2 separate regions of the Homo sapiens genome follow, and region 2 is linked to region 1. The links come from fine-mapping of genetic effects on gene expression. A gene starts in region 1. The other region holds a variant in brackets. All regions are shown on one strand. Distances are from middle to middle.

Region 1 (10,367 bases):
CACACCTATCATCCCAGTGTTTTGGAAGGCCAAGGCAGAAGGATCACTTAAGGCCAGGAGTTCGAGACCAGCCTGGGTAACATAGTGAGACCTTGTCTCTACGAAAATAAAAATAAAAATGGAAAGAAAATATAGAATATTGTTTGGTGGGTTTTTTTTAAACATAAATAGCACCAGAGCTTTTTTCAATTAGTAATGTGTTTTTATGGCCTACCCATGCTGAGACATATTTCTAAGTTCCTTCATTTTTTTTTTTTTTTTTTTGAGATGGAGTCTCACTCTATTACGCAGGCTGGAGGGCAGTGGCGTGATCTCAGTTCACTGCAACCTCAGCCTTCCAGGTTCAAGCTATTCTCCTGCTTCAGCGTCCCGAATAGCTGGGATTACAGGCGTGCACCACCATGTCCAGCTAGTTTTTGTATTTTTTAGTAGAGACAGGGTTTAGCCATGTTGGCCAGGCTGGTCTCAAACTCCTGACCTCAGGTGATCCGGTGAATAATGAAGACATGGTTCAGATCCCTGGGGGCACACATCCAAGTTCTGTGAAAAGGACATAGACATGAAATGTGGACAAGAAGCCATTCTTAAGAAATTCAGTCTAAAGAAGCAGGCCAAAGGGAAAAAGATGTCAACTAGTGTGACAATATCCACATCTTCACCCCAGCTCATCATTGAAGACAGCAGCCTCGGAAGATGAGCATCCCTTTTTTGCAGCCCAGCTGCAGTGAGGGGCCTCTCCCCCATGTCCACCAGCTGGGCCTTCCTTGGAGGACCAGAGACACACGGGAACTTGGCTACCAAAAAATGGTAATGATAAATCAGTAATTACCAGTGATGGCAGAGATAGGGGAAGTAGCACAGTCCCATACCTTGTGGGTGGATGCAGCAACAGAGCTGTGCAGAAGGGCAATTTGGCCGTAATCATCAAAACTCAAACTGAGCACACCTGCTCCCAAGGCCCCACTTCTAGAAATCCACCCTATGGAAATGTTCATGAACCACACGAAGAGGGATGTGTCGGGATATCGCTGTCATTTGTGACAGAGAAAATGATCAGTCAATGGAGAAACAGGTAAACAAGTCTATAACCATTCAAAGGAATACCAGCAGTGATGAAGGAAAACGCGGGGTAGACTTATTGCTGAGACATGGAAAATTTTTCAGCTGGTATCTTTGAATTGAAAAACAAATTGCAAGATAATTATACATGTTCAAGTTCACCTACACTTAGTTCAAGTTATGTAAAATATATATTAATATGTATACATACAGGCTCCTGGTACACAGAAAAGGGTCTAGAAAGATCCACATCAATGATGGTGATAATAGCTCAGGAGGGGAATAAAATGGGGGAAACTTTCTCTCTTTTCCTCCATTTGAACTTTTTTTTACGAGCAAGTATTCATATATTTTATATAAAGTCGTCCCTCAATGTCAGAGGGGAATTGGTTTCAGGACCCCCATAGATACCAAGATCTGCAGATGCTCAAGTCCCCGACATAAAATGCTGTGGTATTTGCATATCACCTATGCGCATCCTCCCGTATTCTTTAAATCATCTCTAGGTTACTTATAATACCTAATACGATGTAAATGCTATGTCAATAGTTGTTATACAGTATTGTTTTTATGTCTTTTTTTAGTTGTATTGTTATTTTGGGGGGATTTTTTCTGAAAACTTTTCATCTGCAGTTGATTGAATCCACGGATGCAGAACCTGCAGACACAGAGGGCCAACTGTAGGGACTTCTGTTGTTAACCAAAAAGCACATTAAAAAAAAAAAATAAAAGCACAAGGCCTCCCATTCAAGTTGCACACAGACTCATGTAGCCAAAGAAAACACCAGCGGGCAGTCCCTGCTTATGCGTGTGTCTCACCCGCCTGGTCCCCTGAACACAGGCTCTCTTCTTCCATGCTAAGGCACTTGGCCGCTGCTCCAGCCTGGGCGGTTCCAGAAGTGGCCGTCTTGGGCTGGGCGTGTCTTCCTGCCTTCACACCACTCGGCCCCAAACCAATCGCCTTTGGGATATCCACAGAAGGATGCTGGGAGGCTCCTGTTCAACTTTAAGCCAGATGCTCCTAGCTCCAGGACAATTGAGGACAATGTGGTTTTCCTCTTTAGAAGCCCAGGAGAGGAGTGGGGAAATTTGGTGGTGCATGCATGTGTGGTGCACACACACACACACACATCCTACTGACATACTTAACCTGATGACATCCTGAGAAAGAAAACACCTTGAAATAAGCCCCCGAATAACTGAGTTGGCAAGACTCTTTACCTGGCATAAGTCCCCACACTCCCATAGCAAGAGACCAGGTGCTCACTCACAGCACAGGGTCACATGCTTGAACTGCCTGAGTGATAGCCCCTCTAGGGACCCTGCATACACACAGTGGGGTCCTGGCACTGCAGCAGCCACAAGGCTGTCACTGACACACACGTTTCAGTATGAGTAGGCCACAGAAAAATAAAGCTCCCTCAGTGTAACAGAGAAAGCCTCTGAGCTGTCATGGGGGAGAAGAGGCCATTCTGCTGATTTTCCTGCCATCCCCAGAGACAGTGTCACCATCCACCGGGACCTCTTTGCAGTCAGATTACAGGCTTTGGCGGGACAAGATTTGAAAAATCAAAAATAGACACAACGTGGCTAAGATGCCCTAGACAACTGCTCACCCAGAGACCTTGAGAGAGACCATATGTTGCTCCATCTTTAAGGCCAGCTAGCTGGGTCCCAAGAAGTGTGGCAGCCAGATCTAAGCAGATCCTTCATTCATTCACTCATTCATTCGCTCTGTGAATGAGGGAACAGACATGAAATGTGGACAAGGAACCATTCTTAAGAAACCCAGTCCAAAGAGGCAGGCCAAGGGGAAAAGACGTCCATTAGAGTGACAATGTCCACATCTTCACCCCAGCTCTGCATCTGGCTAGAACTTTGATAAGAGTGAGCCCCAGTTTCCCCTCCCCGCCACTGCATGTGTGGGTTCCCAGGGCTTCAAAACTCTAAATGGCTTTTAGTTCAAATGTGATACTCTGCAATCTCCCAGCCCTTCCCTAACTCCAGGCTCATTCAAACAGGCCACCCAGGCACCCAGGGCAGAGTCTGTCCGTCTGCAGACCAGCTGACCGCCTAATCTGTCTCCCTGGTTGAAAGGGCAATGGTATGCAAAGTTAGGATCAGAGGAAAGACCTAAGGCTGCGTGCACTCAGAGGACCTTGGGCTGCTGCCTGCCTCTGCATGAATCTGGGGAGAAAAGCGGCTTATAGTTTCCAGACTGAATCATGGAGGCAGTGAGCAGGGAGAACAGAGTCGCGCATTCTGCCTCTGGGAGAGGGTTCCTATGGGGAGATTCTGGGCAGTGGAGGATGCTCAGCTGAGCACCTACCATGTGAGCTGGGCACCCACGTGGGTCTCACAGAAGGTTCCTGTCCTCCTGGGCTCACAGGATACAAGCAAAGTGCAGCTCTAATTTTACCGGACCCTGCTACCGGCTGCTGTGAAAGCAGACGTTCACACACTCTTGGGCTCCTTCGGGCGGCACCACGGAAGCAACCTGTCCACACTCCTGATCCGTCGTGGGCGCCCAGACCCTTTAGGGCGGGTCAGGCGCCCGGGTGGTCTCCCGTCCAGGCCTCCCCAACCCTGGCCTGCGCCTCCAGCAAAGCCCCTGGGTTCCCCCCTAGCCTCAGTCTGGGGCGGTGAGGGTGGTGGGGAGGCGGGCAGCAGCCCCTCCCGAAGCGCCTGGCCTCCCTCGTGCTCTGCGGCGCCAGGCCCGGGCGCCGATTCCGCTGCGGTCGCCCACCCACCGCAACGCGCGGGTCCTCCCGGCGCCCAGCGCCCAACAGCCCGGGTCCGTGCGCGGACCCCCTGGGGTCTCCCTCACCCACCTTAAGGACCTGCTGCTTGATGAGCGACGGCACCATCACGATCATGACAGCGCCCAGCACAGCGCACAGTAGCCCCGCGACGCCCAGCGCCCCGGCAGCCCAGCGCGCTTTGGCGGAGCAGCCCATGTCTGCGCGCCTGGGGCCCACCCGCGGCTCGCAGGGCTCCGCGCCTGGCAGGAGACGGGGACGGCGACAGAGACGACACAGGCGGGGACTCCGGGCACGCAGGCCGCAGAGGCACGGTGGATCCGGGACGGCAGCGCACGCAGGAGCAGCCCGGCAGGTGGCCAGTGGTTTTATGCCCCATCGCCGGCGCCGCCGGACCGCCCCCGGGCAGCCTTGGGCTTCAGGATTCCGGCGGCAGGGGCGGGGCCTGAGCGGGCCCGGGGCGGGGTCGGGGCGGGGACGGGGCGGGGCGCTGATCGGACGGGCAGGGGGCGGGGCCATGGCCGCCAAGACAAGCCCCGCCATGCTGCCGCTGCCCCCACGGCCTCGCTTCCGTTTTGGGGCGGGAGCTGAGGAGGCCTCGTGGCCGCTGAGCCAAAACGTCTATGGGGCCTGGTGCCCCTCACCCTCTTGCTCCCTTCCCCTTTCTCCTACCCCTTCCCCCACCTATGTCTCCCCTCCTCCCAGCTCTCCCCTCTGAGCCCCTCACCCTTCCTTTTCCCTCCTCCTCCCTCTCCTCCTCTATCGGGACCATCATCATGGTTGGTCACTGTGAGTAGGACTTCGCCAGCCCACCCAGGAACCCCAGAGCCCTTACAACGGTCCACATGCCCCGCCACCACCTTCTAGACCCTCATCTCCGCAGTCCATCTCCAGCCTCACTGTCCCTGGAAGAAGCCCCGCAGGCTCCAGCCCCAGGGCCTCCATACACCCTGCACAGGCAATTCTGTTCTCCCAGGTATCCGCCTGGCCCTATCCTTCGTAACGCTGGTGCCACCATCACCCTATGACTGAGCACCCCCTGGCAGGTTCACGTTCATTTGCGTCCTTGCATTCTGACCATGTGCTCCAACTGGGATGCCAACCCGTGAGGCGGGCCCCCCCCCCCACGCGTCCTGAGCTCTAGAACGTGGCCTGGCAGGGAATGCCTGCTCACAGTAAATATTCTAGAATGAATGACTGAGGAGCCTTCTAGGTGCTGGCCCCTGTCCTGAGTGCTTTGCACACAATGGCTCCATTTTACAATAAGAAAACTGGGAGGTGGCTCACGCCTGTAATCCCAGCACTTTGGGAGGCCGAGGCGGGTGGACTTCATGGATCACCTGAGGTCGGGAGTTGGAGACCAGCCTGACCAACATGGCGAAACCCCGTCTCTACTAACAATACAAAATTAGCCAGGCGTAGTGGCGCATGCCTGTAATCTCAGCTACTCGGGAGGCTGAGGCAGGAGAATCGCTTGAACCCGGGAGGCGGAGGTTGTGGCGAGCCGAGATAGCGCCATTGCACTCCAGCCTGGGCAACAAGAGCGAAACTCCATCTCAAAAAAAAAAAAAAAGAAAAGAAAAAGAAAAAGAAAGAAAGAAATGAAAACTGATGCACAGGGAAGCTTAGTTAACCCAAACCAAGTCCCCACTTTCTAATGAAGAGGGAAACCAATGATGAGCACGTGAGCAAATGAATGAAGGATAATTGCAGGCAAGTGCTCCAAGAAAACAGAACAGGCCCGGTGCATGGTGGCCCACAACTGTAATCCCAGCACTTTGGAAGGTCCAGGTGAGGGATCACTTGAGGCCACTAGTTGGAGACCAGCCTGGGCAACATAGTGAGACCAGTCTCTACAGAAAATGAAAAGATTAACCAGCCACAGTGGCATGCGCTTGTCGCCCCAGCTACTCAGGAGGCTGAGGCAGAAGGATCCCTTGAGTCCCAGAGTTCAAGGCTGCAGTGAGCCCTGATCTTACCACCGCACTCCAGCCTGGGTGACAGCAAGACCCTGGGGGAAAAAGAAAAAAGAAAAAAGGGAGAGAAGTGGGCTGGCACTAAGTGGCAGTTGCCCTTAGATGGGTGAGTGTATCCCTGAAGCCCTCCACGCCCCCCTGAAGTCCTCCACCACACCCCACCTGGCCTGCCTTCTGGTCCCTGAAGTGCTGGCCAGTCCCCTCATTTTCTGAATGAAGTTACTGAGAAGAGACTCCTGGGTTACACAGGGACAGGAGGGTGGTGTCCCCAGCACGTGGGTAAGGCAGGCTCAGTCCTTGAGTGCTCCGAGGGAGGCTTTCTAAACCTCTTATTTAACTCCAGAAGAAAGCAGCCTTCTCGCAGGGCCATCCTTAAGCAACATGTCTTCGCCTGAACCAATATTTACAGAGCACCTGCTATGTTCTCGTTAGACAGCTTTGCCTGGCACTGCCTTCCTCTAAGGAGGCCGAATATGGTCCAGTGCCCCAAGGGGCAGGGCCCAACTCCTGAGGGAGGTCAGAGTGGCTGAGGTGAGACTGTGGTAGCCCCGGGGGACAGGTTCAGAGAAATCCAGGCTCTGGGGTTTCCCACATTGGAGTCCTGGGGCAAGTGGTTTGGGCCTTTCTGTGCCTCAGTCTCCTCATCTACGAAACGGGGATTAGAAGAGCCCCTTTCCAAGGGCTACCATGAGGATTAAACAAGTCAAAAAATGTGCCAGTGCTTAGAACAGTCCCTGGAATGTGTCAGTGCAACTGAGCTGGGGAGTGTCGTCGTTATTTTCCGGACCCACATGAACTGGCGCCTGCCCATCTCTCTGCCTCCATCTCCTGCCCTCTCCCCCATTGTTTCAGTTCATTGAGCATCCCCAGCTTTTTCTTGTGTCAGGAACTTTGCACTTCCTGTTCCTCTGTCTAGGATACGCTTCCCCTAGATCCTTCCATGGCTCCCCACTCTCCTCTTCTGGGCTCAGCTGAAACCCACTCCTCAGAGAAGCCTTTGCTGTTGCATCTGTTGAAAACAGGAGTCCCAGCCCACTCTGTCAGGCCACCTTGCTTTGTGTGAAATGGTCTTATCTGTTTCCTTGTTCATCTCCTCCAGCTCCCGAGAGACAGAAGCTGACCCTGTTTTGCTTATCGATGTATCTCCAGCACCTGGAAAAATGCCTGGCACATAGCAGGTACTCAATAAATACTTTACTCAATCAGCTAATTAACTCATTAATTAATCAAGTAACTGATCGATTGATTAATTAATTAATATCACTTCATTGAATTCCTTAAGGCCTTCAACAGCCTTCAGCTATGCAGTTGCCTTTTTTTTTAATGACTTTTGTAGTTCTCGGAAATTAGCCAGTTAACTAAAATCTGCGGTCTGCCTGGCCCTGACACCCTCCTCCACTTCCTTGATACTGACCTGCCTTGACCATCTCACCCAATCTAACTCTGATTCATGACCAAGTCTTCAAGGTCCAAATGTACGTGATGCTTACCCAAGAGGGCTGCAAGGCCATGGCTGGAGAGCCCTCATGTCACGCCATGCTGTCACTCGAGAGAGAAGGGCAGAGATGAAAGGGTGATGGGACACGTGAGCCACCTTGGCCTTGCTGAGGGGAGTCACTTCCGGTGGCAGGGAGGGCAGCTTAAGAAGGGAAAAAAAGACTTCGTCATGTTTGAGAGAGAGGTCTTGCCCTGGGGAAAGTCGAAGATACAGAAGAAAAGAAAGAGTGCTGATAACAAAATATGATCAACATGGTGTCACAGGGCTCCTGGAAAATCAAGTCAGATGCTTTTCCTCCTCTGCTCAGAGTCCTTTCGTGATCAAAGACGGAGAATGACTGCAGGCAAAGACCTGGAGGAGTTGGAAGCCTCTTGAGGTGCTTGTGGGATTGTAAAATGGTGCAGCCTCAAAAGGTAAACATAGGGGTCCCCTAAGACCCAGCAGTTCCACTCCTGGGTATATGCCCAGGAGAAAGGAAAGAGCATGTCCACACGGAAGCCTGGACACAAATGTTCACAGCAGCCAAGCAGTGAAAATAACCCACACCCCCATCAGCTGGTGAATAGGTAAATAAAATGTGGCATAACCACGCACTGGAATATGACTCAGCATAAAAAGGAATGAAGGGCTGACGCGTGCTACACCATGGATGAACCTTGAAAACATTGATAAGTGAAAGAAGCCAGACACAAAGGCCACATGTATGATTCTGCTTATATAAAATGTCCATAGTAGGCACATCTATGGGGACAAAAAGTAGACCAGTGGTTGCCAGGGGCTGGGGAGAATGAGGAGTGACTGCTACAGGTTTGGGGTTTCATCTTGGAGTGGTGAAAATGTTCTAAAAGTGACGGTAAAAGTGATGGTAATGATGGTTGCACAACTCCGTGAATATACAAAAAACCATCAAATTACACACTTTATTTACTTTTTCTTTTTTTCAAGAGACAGGGTCTCACTCTGTCACCCAGGCTGGAGTGCAGTCTTGAAGTCTTGGGTTCAAACCATCCTCCCGCCTCGGCCTCCTGACTAGCTTGGACAACAAGTATATGCCACTATGTACACCTGATGTTTTCATTTTTGTTGAGACAGGGTCTCACTTTGTTGCCCAGGCTGCTCTCAAAATTCTGGTCATCCTCCCACCCTGGCCTCCCAAAGCGCTGGGATTACAAGTGTGAGCCATCATGCCTGGCCAAATTATATACTTTAAATGGGTGAATGTATGATATGCAAATTATATCTCAATGAAAACTGTTATTTTAAAGAAATGGCCAGGCATGGTGGCCCATGCCTATAATCCCAGTGCTTTTGGAGGCTGAGGCAGGAGGATCCCTTGAGGCCAGGAGTTCGAGATCAGCCTGGGCAACACAGCCAGACACCATCTCTACAAAAAATAAAAAGTTAGCCAGGTAAAGTGGCACACACCTCTAGTTTCAGCTACTGAGGAGGCTGAGGTGGGAGAATCACGTGAGCCCAGGAAGTCGAGGCTGCAGTGAGTGAGCTGTGATTGTGTCACTGCACTCCAGCCTGGGCAACACAGTGAGACCCTGTCTCTCAAGAAAACAAAAAGAAAGAAACCTTTCCGTGGCTCCCACCTCATTCAGCATAAAAGCCAAAGCCCTCACCATGGCCCACAAGATCACCACATCTCATACTAGAGAGACAAAGTCAAAACGCACCCAGATGGGCACATCTCCCTGACCTCATCCCCCTCCCTCTCCTTGCCCACTCTGCTCCAGCCACATCCTCCTCCCTGGAGCTCCTCCACCTGTTGCCCGGCTCGTGCCCCAGAACCTTTGCACTCCCTGGTCCCCTCCTGGAATGCTCCTCTCCCTAACACCCAGGAGACTCACCCTCCCTTCCTTCAGGTCCTTGCTCCAATGCCATCTTCTCAGCAATGACTTCCTTCCTGCCCACCCTTTGAAAGTTACAAACCACCCATAGGACCCTCCCTATCCCCCTTGGCTGCTTCATTTCTCTCTGTGCACCGACCGCCCTCCAGGGCGGGTGTTTGCTTGTTTGATTGGCTTCCTTCCTCTTCTAGGATAAAAAAAGCTCCACGGGGCAGGAATCTGCCTGTTTCGTCCATTGCTGTGCCCCCGGCTCCCCAACAGCACGTGGCCCACAGTAGGCCCTTGGTCGGTGTGTGTGGATGAACCACATCTACCAGAGTCCAAGGTAAAAGCTTGCCTCTGCCGCCGGAACACGCAGCTGCCTGGCATGGCGGCCTGGGGCAAGTTGCTCAGCCTCTCTGTGCCTCGGCTCCCTTATCGGTGCCTTGGGATTGGTCTGAGTCATGCCTGCACCCTGGGGTGGTCATGAGGATTACATGGGCTCATCTTGGTCATATGCTTAGCAAGGTGCCTGTGTGAGGCGGAGCCAACACCTCCTGCAGGCAGCCGCATTCCCACCCCAGCCTGGGAAGAATCACGCTCATCCCCAGCGGCAATAGAACACAGTGAATGGAAGCTGAAGGGCTTCCTTAAAGGAGGCACAGCTGGCTCCTGGCGAGCAGAGAGCAGAGATGTGAACCAGTGACTTGCCACACACATGACCACTACGCTGTTTGCTGAGGGAAAGGAAAAAGAGGAAGAAAGTGAAGGAAAGCAAAGAGACGGGTGAGAGAAAGGACAAAATAAAAAGCAAAGGAAGAGGAAACCTTATTTTTTTTTCTTTTGAGGTGGAGACTCGCTCTGTGGCCCAGGCTGGAATACAGTGGTGTGATCTCAGCTCACTGCAACCTCCGCCTCCCGGATTTAAGCAGTTCTCCCTGTCTCAGCCTCCTGAGCAGCTGGGATTACAGGTGCATGCCACACGACTGGCTAATTTTTTTTTTTTTTTTTAAGAAGAAGTCTTACTCTGTCGCCCAGGCTAGAGTGCAATGGTGTGATCTCAGCTCACTGCAACCTTCTCCTGGGTTCAAGCGATTCTCCCGCCTCAGCCTCCTGAGTAGCTGGGATTACAGGCACCTGCCATCATGCCTGGCTAATTTTTGTATTTTTGTAGAGACGGGATTTCACCGTGTTGGCCAGGCTTGTCCTGAACTCCTGACCTCAGGTGGTCCGCCCACCTTGG
Region 2 (10,367 bases), 24 kb before region 1:
GGGTAAAGTTAATCCAACAGGATTCCTGCCCTCGTGGACTGAGCAGGAAGTGGGGAAGAGGACACGCAATTCACAAGTGACTCAGGTACCCAGTAGGAAGAGCTCAGGGACATCACACGTATTCACTGGCACGCACTGGCAAGCACCAGAGGTCTCGCGCATGTGTCACTGGCCAGAATGTCCATCAGTACAGCCACCTCGGAGAGCCACTGGGCAAAATCTACTGAGGCAGAGCACGATGTTCTGAACTGCTGAACGCATCTGGAAACCACCACCTCCCATCTCTCAGGAAGCACAACAGTAAACATCTGCATTACAGAAGCCACTGGAGGCAAGTTTTATGTTGTTTCCAGCTCAAAGCATCCCATTTAAAGCAATGCTTTCATTTATTTAAACCTAACAATTAGGCTGGGTGTGGTGGCTCACACCTGTAATCCCAGCACTTTGGGAGGCTGGGGCAGGAGGATCACTGGAGCCCAGGAGTTCGAGACCAGCCTGCGCAACACAGTGAGCCCCATCTCTACAAAAAATGTTTAAAAATTTGCCAAATGTGGTAGTGTATGCCTGTAGACCCAGGTACGTGGAAGGCTGAGGCAGGAGGATCCCTTGAGCCCAGGAGATAGAGGCTGCAGTGAGCCATGATCGTGCCACTGTACTCCAGCCTGGGTGACAGAGCAAGACCCTGTCTCAAAATAAAATGAAATAAAATAAAATAGAATAAAGCTAATAATTTGTCTCCATTTTACTGATGAAGAAAGTGAAGTACAGGGAGATTAAACCACTCGCTTGCCCAAGAGCACAAACCCAATGTTGGCACAGAGTCTTGACCTTGGGTCTGACCAAAGGCTGGGCACTGCCTTGGTAAAGGCCCAGCACAGGCGTGGCAAGTAAGGAGCTCAGACCAGCGAAGAGAATGCTGGAAGGTGCATACAGTCCTGGTCCCCGGGCACAGAGATGAATCAAGCACAACCTCTCCTTCCCCGCCAAATCAGGGCCTCATCCTGCTCCCCAGTTGCACCTGCATGACGGGAACTCCAGGCAGCCCACCTCTACTTGCTTTTTTGGACAAAAACAATTTCTACCAGGGCTGATCCCAGCCCCACTGTTTCCACACAAGTCAGACAGTGAATATGCCTTCTTTCAAACACCCCAACCTCAATAAAGCTGGCTGTTTTCAAGCAAAAACATTATTCTTCTCTGTTCTTAGAAAGGTTTCAACAAGCTACAGCCTGTGGACCAAATCCAGCCTGATGCCTATTTCTACTCACCCCACAAGCTAACAATCATTTTGCATTTTCAAATGGAAAGAAGGGAAAGAGGGGAAGAAAGGGAAGAAAGAAAAGAAAGAAAGAAGGAAAGAAAGAAAGAAAGGAAGGAAGGAAGGAAGGAAGGAAGGAAGGGAGAAAAAAGAAAAGAAAGGAAAGAAAAAGAAAGAAAAGAAAAGAAAAGAAAAGAAAAGAAAAGAAAAGAAAAGAAAAGAAAAGAAAAGAAAAGTCAGCCAGCTGGGTGCAGTGCTGCACGCCTGTAATCCCAACACTTTGGGAGACCAAGGTGGGAGGGTCACTTGAGGCCAGGAGTTCAAGACGAGCCTGGGCAACATAGTGAGGACCCCCCCTACACACCCACCCACCAACCTATAAAAAAAAAAAATGAGCCAGGCGTGGTGGCACATGCCTGTTGTCCCAGCTACTCAGGAGAGTAAGGTGGGAGGATAACGAGCCCAGGAGGTCTAGGCTGCAGTGAGCCATGATGGTGCCCCTGCCCCCCAGCCTGGGTGACACAGTGAGACCCTGTCTCCAAAAAATATGTTAAAAATAAATAAACAAACAATTGAAAGAAAAATGCCATTTCATGACATGTGAAAGTTATATGAAATTCACATTTTGGTGTTCATAAATGCAGTGGCACTGGCCCACAGCGGCCACCTCGACTTATTTCTGTGTCGTCAATGGCAGCCTCAGCATCACAGCAGCAGGGCTGAGTAGCTGAGACACAACCCGTGCAGCCTGCAGAGCTGAGCATATTGACTATCTGTCTCTGTACAGAAAAGCATGCCAACCCCAGCCTAGACCACACAGAAATTCAGGAAGGGCCATCCCCTGCCAGGCCAGCTTCACGGGTGAGGCCGGATCTGGCCATTAGGGAGAGGGCCAGGGCGCAGACCTAGTTCTGGCCTCGGCTCAGTCAGCCCCTCCCACCCCGGTCCCCTGATATGCCACATGGAGACGTGACTGCCTCCCCATCCTCCCCGTGGCAGTGCAGAGAGAATGAGATGACCCAGGACATGTGTCTGTTGTGAAGAGGGCACCCGGCTATAAACATGCCTCAGGGAACTATTGTTACAGGAGCCTCCCTGAGCTCACCACTGGCTCCAGTTCAAGAACACGTCATGAAGCCAGCCAAGGTCTTGTAAAATAGGGCAACGGTGGTTTGGGCCTGGAGGAATCAGAAGCTCAGGGCTGCCTGCTTCAAAGGCTAAGTCTTCTGCAACAGGCTCAGCATGTTGGAATTTGACCCTGGCCAACAGGCTGGGCCGTCTGGTCTACCATCTACAAACCAACAGCCCAACCCATTCAAGCAGGAGGGGCCGGTACCATTTCTCCCTTCAGGTTAAACCCTGCCACAGTTTTTAATTTTAATTGGGGTAAACATAAAATTTACCAACTTAGCCTTTTTTTTTTTTTTTTTTGAGATGGAGTCTCGGTCTGTCACCCAGGCTGGAGTGCAGTGGTGTGATCTCAGCTCACTGCAACCTCTGCCTCCCAGGTTCAAGAAATTCTCTGCCTCAGCCTCCTAAGTAGCTGGGATTACAGGCGCCTGCCACCATGCCAGGCTAATTTTTGTATTTTTAGTAGAGACGGGGTTTCACCATCTTGGCCAGGCTGGTCTTGAACTCCTGACCTCGTGATCCACCCACCTTGGGCTCCAAAAGTACTGGGATTACAGGCATGAGCCACTACACGCCCAGCCCAACTTAGCCATTTTTAAGTGTACAGTTCAGTGGCATTAAGGACATTTGCAATGTTGTGCAATTATCAGCAACATCCATCTAAAGAACTCTTTCATCTTGCAAAAGTGAAACCCTGTACCCACTGAAAAAGAGCTCTGCACCCCCTCTCCCCCAGCCCCTGGCACCCACCATTCTCTTTTCTGTCTCTGTGGATCTGGCTACTCTAGGGAGCTCATGCAAATGGAATCGTACGGTATTTGTCCTGTTGTGGCTTATTTCACTCGCATAACTTCCTCAAGGCCCGTGCATGTCGCAGCGTGCGTCCAAACGTCCTTCCTTTTCCAGGCTGAATCCTATTCCAACGTGTGGATGGGCCCCAGCTTCTTACCCACCACCCATCAGCGGACACTCGGGTTGCTCCCACCGTTGGGCCATCGTGAACAGCGCTGCAATGAACGCGGTGGCCAGATTCCTCTTCAAGTTCCCACTTCCATTTCTTTGATACCCAGAAGTGGGGTTGCCCCACCATATGGTAATTCTATGTTAAATTTTGGGGGGGCCTCCACACAGCAGCTGCACCATCCTACATTCCCAACGGCACACATGGGCCCCGATTTCTCCGCACCCTCACCCCAACGGCACACATGGGCCCCGATTTCTCCGCACCCTCACCCCAACGGCACACATGGGCCCCGATTTCTCCGCACCCTCACCCCAACGGCACACATGGGCCCCGATTTCTCCGCACCCTCACCCCAACGGCACACATGGGCCCCGATTTCTCCGCACCCTCACCCCAACGGCACACATGGGCCCCGATTTCTCCGCACCCTCACCCCAACGGCACACATGGGCCCCGATTTCTCCGCACCCTCACCCCAACGGCACACATGGGCCCCGATTTCTCCGCACCCTCACCCCAACGGCACACATGGGCCCCGATTTCTCCGCACCCTCACCCCAACGGCACACATGGGCCCCGATTTCTCCGCATCCTCACCAATATTTGAGATTTTCTGTTTTCTCAAGTGACCATCCTAATGGGTATGAGTGTGTCTCACTGATTCTCATTTCCCTAACGATGAGCGAGTGTCGCTGAGCACACTTCCATGTCCCCGTTGGCTATCTGCATTTTTTTTTTTTTTAAGACAGAGTCTTGCTCTGTTGCCCAGGCTGGAGTACAGTC[T/G]TGGCTCACTGCAACCTCTACCTCCCAGGTTCAAACGATTCTCCTGCCTCAGCCTCCTGAGTAGCTGGGATTACATACAGGCGCCTGCCACCACACCCGGCTAATTTTTGTATTTTTAGTAGAGACGGGGTTTCGCCATCTTGGCCAGGCTGGCCTCGAACTCCTGACCTTGTGATCCGCCCACCTTGGCCTCCCAAAGTGCTGGGATTACAGGCGTGAGCCACCGCGCCTGGCTGCCTGCATGTCTTCTTTGCAGGTGCTTGGTCCGTGTTTTAATGGGGTTGTCTGACTCTTGTTGTTGAGTTGTCCTCGCTTGATTTTAGGACCAGAGTTAAGGCCCACACTCCATCTGCTCTCAACCTCCCTCCCCCGATCTTCTCGTCTCGGAAAATGGCTCCACCATCTACCAAACTCCTCAAACCTTGAGGAACCACCCTTGATTCCTCTCCTTCCCTCGCACCCCAGTCCACTGACCTATCTTGTTGACTCTCCCTGAAAAAAAACTCGAATATGTTCCCTTCTTTCCATTTAGAAAACTACCCCCACCTGGCTCAAATCACCATCTTCTCTGCCTCCCCGCTTCCAGCCTGGCCCCCGACACTCCCTTCTCCAGACAGCAGCCAGAGAGCTCTTCAAGACTGAGTCAGGCTGGGCGTGGTGGCTCACACCTGTAATCCCAGCCCTTTGGGAGGCCAAGGCAGGTGGATCACCTGAGGTCAGGGGTTCAAGACCAGCCTGCCCAACATGGTGAAACACCATCTTTACGAAAAATACAAAAATTAGCCGAGTGTAGTGGCACGCACGTGTAATCCCAGCTACTCAGAAGGCTGAGGCAAGAAAATTGCTTGAGGCTGGGCGCGGTGGCTCACGCCTGTAATCCCAGCACTTTGGGAGGCCGAGGTGGGCGGATCACGAGGTCAGGAGATTGAGACCATGCTGGCTAACACGGTGAAACCCCGTATCTACTAAAAATACAAAAAAATTAGCCGGGCGTGGTGGCGGGCGCCTGTAGTCCCAGCTACGCGGGAGGCTGAGGCAGGAGAATGGCATGAACCAGGGAGGCGGAGCTTGCAGTGAGCGGAGATTGCGCCACTGCACTCCCCCGCCTGGGCAACAGAGCAAGACTCCGTCTCAAAAAAAAAAAAAAAAGAGAATTGCTTGAACTCGGGAGGCGGAGGTTGCAGTGAGCTGATACCATGCCACTGCACTCCAGCCTGGGCGACAGAGAAAGACTCTGTCTCAAAAAAAAAAAAAAAAAATACTGAGTCAGATCATGGCTCTTCCCTGCTCAGAACCCTCCATGGAATTGAAAACCAAATCTGAACTCCTCCAGGTGTCCTGCAAGGCCCCCACATGCCTGTCCCCTTTCACCCCCTCCAGTCACTTCTCCCAACCCCACTGGCCTGCTCCCTCTTCCTCCAACACAGCAGGCTCCTTCGCACCTCCGGCCTTTGAACCTGCTGTGCTCTTTGCCAGCTGCTCCCCAGCTCATAGAGCCCCTCCTCTGAGAGGCCCTCCTGACTCCCACATCAGAAGGAGTCCCCTTCCCAGCAGTGGCTCCATGTCAGCTCACCTGCCTCGTCCCCTTCCTAGCTCTTCTCGCCACCCCACCTCTTCCATGTGCTTCTCCATGGCCCATCCCTCCTGCTAAAGCGTAGCTGCCGTGAGCAGGACCAGGTCTCTTTTGTCCACGGCTGTAGCTCCAACACTTGGCACGAGACCTGGCCCACAATTTGTGAGCAGTAAACATGGGCCGAAAGGATGAGTAGCTTTCCCTGCCACTTCAGCCCTGGGGGTCCCTCCTCCTCCTCCCACAGTCCTGTGTGCCCCATTCAGGTGGTTCATAAACAGCTGCCCGGAGCAGATTCTCCACTGGGGTTTGTCCCATCTGTAAAATGAGGGTTGTAAATGTGCCCAAACAGCTGGGGATGAATGCAAAGCGCCCCACGCCCCGTGTCACTCCCAGCCAGGAGCAAGAGGGCACCATGCCAGTGCTGCCTCTGGCCCAGGCAGTCACCTGTCCAGGGGAAACAGGCCTCTAAGGCTCCAATGGCCTCACGCACTGGAGTTCATCAATAACACAAGCCGAGAAAGCCCCAGGAAAGCTGGAGACGCTGCCGGAAATGCAAAGCTGCTCATTCTTCCATCCGTCCCAGCTAAAGGGGTTCGAGGAAGCTCCTCCCCACACACCTCCCAGGGTGGAAGGGGACCTCATATCTCAGCGGGGCTCTGGCCCTGGCCCCAGCATCCCAGTCCCTGTCTCTTCTCCCTGCCCCCACCAAGGACACAGATGCCCAGGCCTGCTGGCAGCTTCATCACACTTATCTGCACTCCCAAGCCACAGATTACAGCTGTCAGGCCCAGAGGAAACGTGGCGGTCACATCAACCCTGACTCTGAAAACAGCCCTGAAAGACACAGGGGTGTTTCCAGCACAGCAAGGTCTTACTGGAAAGGACCCCTGGACCCCAATGTCCTAGAGGTGTGCCCCACGACCCCACATGCCCCTCTTCACTGCTCTGGCCTTTGGGAAACACAGCCCTGTCCTTTACAAGGTCCTATTTGCAAAGCCTGCTGGGAGACAGAGGCCCAGGGCTCGGATGAGGATGGGTTCTGTGCGGGAACAAGAGATGCCAAGATCCACCTAGGTGCCCCAGCCAAGAGGCAGAAAAGCATGGGAACCGTGTGCCCTTGTGGGACGTGTGCCACGGACGGGAAGGATACGGGTGTGGGTCCCCCTCTGTGGACGCAAACATGTTTATTGCAGGAAGGAAAAACAAGGAACTATTAACCCAAGTCACCTCTGGAGCAAAGACCAGCTGGGGCCAGGGGAGCAGTGTCGTGCTGTGATCTTTCCAGAAGGCTGACTCTTTTTCCGTACACTTTTAATTTGTTTGATCATATCCCTATTTTACCTTCCTTATTTTTAATGCCAGCCAGGGCTTTCTGGGTAAGAGCTGGGCACACCCAGGGAGAGGCACGTGACCATCCGCAGCTGCTCTCCTTGGCCTCCAGTTTGTTTTGTTTTTGTTTCTTACTTTCTGTGGAGATGGGGGGGGGGGTCTTACTATGTTACCCAGGCTGGTCTTGAACTCCTGGCCTCAGGCGATCCTCCCACCTCTGCCTCGCTAAGTGCTGGGATTACAGGCATGAGCCACTGCGCCTGGCCTTGACTTCTGGTTTGTGAGATGGAAGAACATTGGCCCCATGTGCAGAGGTGGAAATCGGCTTTTAGGAAAAAAGTGAGTTTCCACAGGACCCAAGTAATGGGACCTGGATTTGAACCCAGAGCTCTGCAGATCTGAGGATTGGGCACCTGCACACATAGTGCTGGTCTGAAGCATGTCCCCTGCCAAATTCATGCCCACCTAGAACCTCAGAATGTGGCCTTATTTAAAAATAGGGTCTCTACAGATGTTACCAAGTTAAGGATCCCAAGATGAGATCATCCTGGATTTATGAAGGGCCCTACATCCAAGCTGGAGGCCCTCCAAGCCCAAGCTGGTGGGGTCTAGCCCCAGTTTGCTCTGTGACCCTCCAACATGGCCCTCAAAATCTCTGAGCCTCAGACCCCCACCTGAGGACTTATGAAAGGAAGAAGACTCAAATTCACACCTCAGAAAAGCACATGAGAACAATGCTGCACCACGTACCCTCACTGAGACCCCAGACATTCTCGAAGACTAAATCGTCTCAGGTGCTGGAGAGGATGTGAGAGCTGGGAGGGTGAACAGCAGTGGCCCTTCTGGAAGGCATGTTGGGTGAAAATGGCTCCCCCTCTGCCCTACAGCAATTCCACTCCTGCGCATCCCCAGGAAATTGTGGAGAAGTACAAGGCAGCAGGGTCCAGCATATTTGCTGTTTGTGGAGGCAGGAGTCAGACATAACCAAGGTACCCCCGTCGCTAAGGGAATAAATACAACAGGATGAACATGAATTAGGGGGTCCAGGCAGCAGAAGGAAGCAATAAGCCTGATACACACATAGGAACACGGATAGATTTTAAACAGGGCAGCACGAGGAATGTTGACACGAGTTACCGTGCATGGCATGGAAAAGCCGCCCTCTCCTCAGACGTGACAGGCCACATGAAGGGGGCCTCCCTGTGCCACCCCCAGCTCAAAGCACTTCCACCTCTAGCTCCCTCGGTCCTCACTGAATCCTATAGGAAGGCATGGTTTTAGCCCATTTTATAGGCACCCTACTATTATGAGCTGAACAGTGTCCCCCCAAAATTCCCATGTTGCAGCCCTAACCCTCGGTGCATCAGAATGTGACTGTATTGGCGCGGGGGGCAGGGCCTTTAAATCGGTGATTACGTTTAAATGAGGTCAGTGGGGTGAGCCCTAATCCAATCTGACTGACGCCCTTAAAAGAGGAGATTAGGACCCGCAGAGAGTCACCGGGGATGTGCGCACACAGGGAGAAGGTGGCGTCTATGAGGCCGGGAGAGGGGTCTCCGGAGAAGCCAGCCCTGCCAACATCCTGATCTCAGACTTCCGGCCTCCAGAACTGTACGGGAATACATGGTCTTTGGCCCATGCACCTGTTATGGACATTTTTTTCTTTCTTTCTTTCTTTTTTTTTTTTTTTTGAGACAGAGTCCTGCTCTGTTGCCCAGACTGGAGTGCAGTGGCACGATCTCGGCTCACTGCAACCTCTGCCTCCCATGCAGACTCAGACACCCACCAGAGACCAGAGACTCGAAGAGCCTGTCCATGGTCACACAGCAGCAGGAGGCAGGGCCGGGATCTGGACCCACACCTGCAGGCTCCGGAATCTAGGACTGCACAAGGTCCAAGGACACACTCAGGTTTACAGACGCAGCCACACAGAGGATGGGCGCAGGGGCAGGGCGGGCTGAAGAGCGAGAGGGGTGAGGGGAAGGAGGGCATAAAAGGAGACCACTGAAAGCAGAAGCCAAGCGAGTTCCCGAACATGCGCGCTCCCAGCAGCACCGCTCCCGGCAGCCACCAGCCCAGACGCCCATCCACAGAGGCGCGGAAAAACAGCATGCAGTGCACCCGCACCGTGGAGGCCTGCTCAGCTACAAAAAGGAAAGCAGCACTCCACATGCCACACCACGGATGAACCCCAAAACATGACGCTAAGCGGAAGCAGCCAGGCACTTAAGGCCACACATTGCATGATTTCATTTATAAGAAATGTGCAGGGCCGGGCACGGTGGCTCAGGCCTGTAATCCCAACACTTTGGGACCGAGGCAGGTGTTTGACCTGAGGTCAGGAGTTTGAGACCAGCCTGGCCAACATGTGAAACCCCGTCTATATTAAAAATACAAAAAAAAAAAAAAAAAATTAGCCGGGCGTGGTGGCGGGCGCCTGTAGTCCCAGCTACTGGGGAGGCTGAGGCAGGAGAATCGCTTGAACCCAGGAGGCGGAGGTTGCAGTGAGCCGAGATCACGCCACTGCATTCCAGCCTGGGTGACACAGCAAGACTCTGCCTCAAAAAAAAAAGAAATGTCCAGGGCCGGGCACGGTGGCTCAGGCCTGTAATCCCAACACTTTGGGACCAAGGCAGGTGGATGACCTGAGGTCAGGAGTTTGAGACTAGCCTGGCCAACATGGTGAAACCCGTCTCTACTAAAAATACAAAAAAAAAAAATTAGCCGGGTGTGGTGACAGGCGCCTGTAGTCCCAGCTACTCGGGAGGCTGAGGCAGAAGAATCGCTTGAACCCGGGAGGCGGAGGTTGCAGTGAGCCAAGATTGCACCACTGCACTCCAGCCTGGGCGACAGAGCAAGACTCTGTCTCAAAAAAAAAGAAAGAAAGAAAGAAAGAAATGTCCGTAACAGGTGCATCTGTAGAGACAGAAAGAAAATGAGTGATTGCCAGGGGCTGGGGAGCTGCAAAGAGTGGAGAATGGGCAATTCTACTTGGGAGGGATGGAAATGTTTTGAAACTAGGTAGAAGTGGTGGTATCACTGAATTATTCGATTTACAAGGATTAATTATATGTTATGTGAATTTGAACTCAATAAATTATTAAATGAAAAACAAATGATAGGATTGGAAACGCTGCAACCACTTTGGACAAGAGCTTGGCCCTTCTCCATGCAGGTGAAGACACGCACGCCATGACCAGACCCCCTACTCTGACTGTCGGGCCCTAGAGGGATTCAGGCACATGTCCCTTGCAGGCAGGGACACGAGTGTGTCATAACCCAGAAGTGAACACAGTCACCGGCATCAGGGTTAAAACAGATGAACTGGC

Evidence for each region.
Region 2: its variant is fine-mapped to the expression of SCARB1 in testis (GTEx, PIP above 0.99).

What each region holds. Positions count from the first base shown.
Region 1 is chr12:124,859,705-124,870,071 of GRCh38, forward strand. It overlaps SCARB1 (scavenger receptor class B member 1), which reads right to left and starts at 4,160. Exons shown (of 13, transcript NM_005505.5): 1 at 3,891-4,160. The coding sequence starts at 4,016. It overlaps LOC105370050 (a long non-coding RNA gene), which reads left to right and starts at 4,358. Exons shown (of 3, transcript XR_945488.3): 1 at 4,358-5,900; 2 at 6,894-6,972. RefSeq lists enhancers at 1,988-2,514, 4,608-4,807, 6,195-6,364, 6,793-7,992 and silencers at 2,338-2,467, 3,698-4,377.
Region 2 is chr12:124,836,105-124,846,471 of GRCh38, forward strand. The region is part of intron 1 of SCARB1 (scavenger receptor class B member 1); the gene reads right to left. Among named protein-coding and RNA genes, the nearest start is that of SCARB1, 23 kb to the right of the region's middle. RefSeq lists enhancers at 3,204-3,730, 3,731-4,255. The variant T/G (reference allele first, on the strand shown) is at 4,137.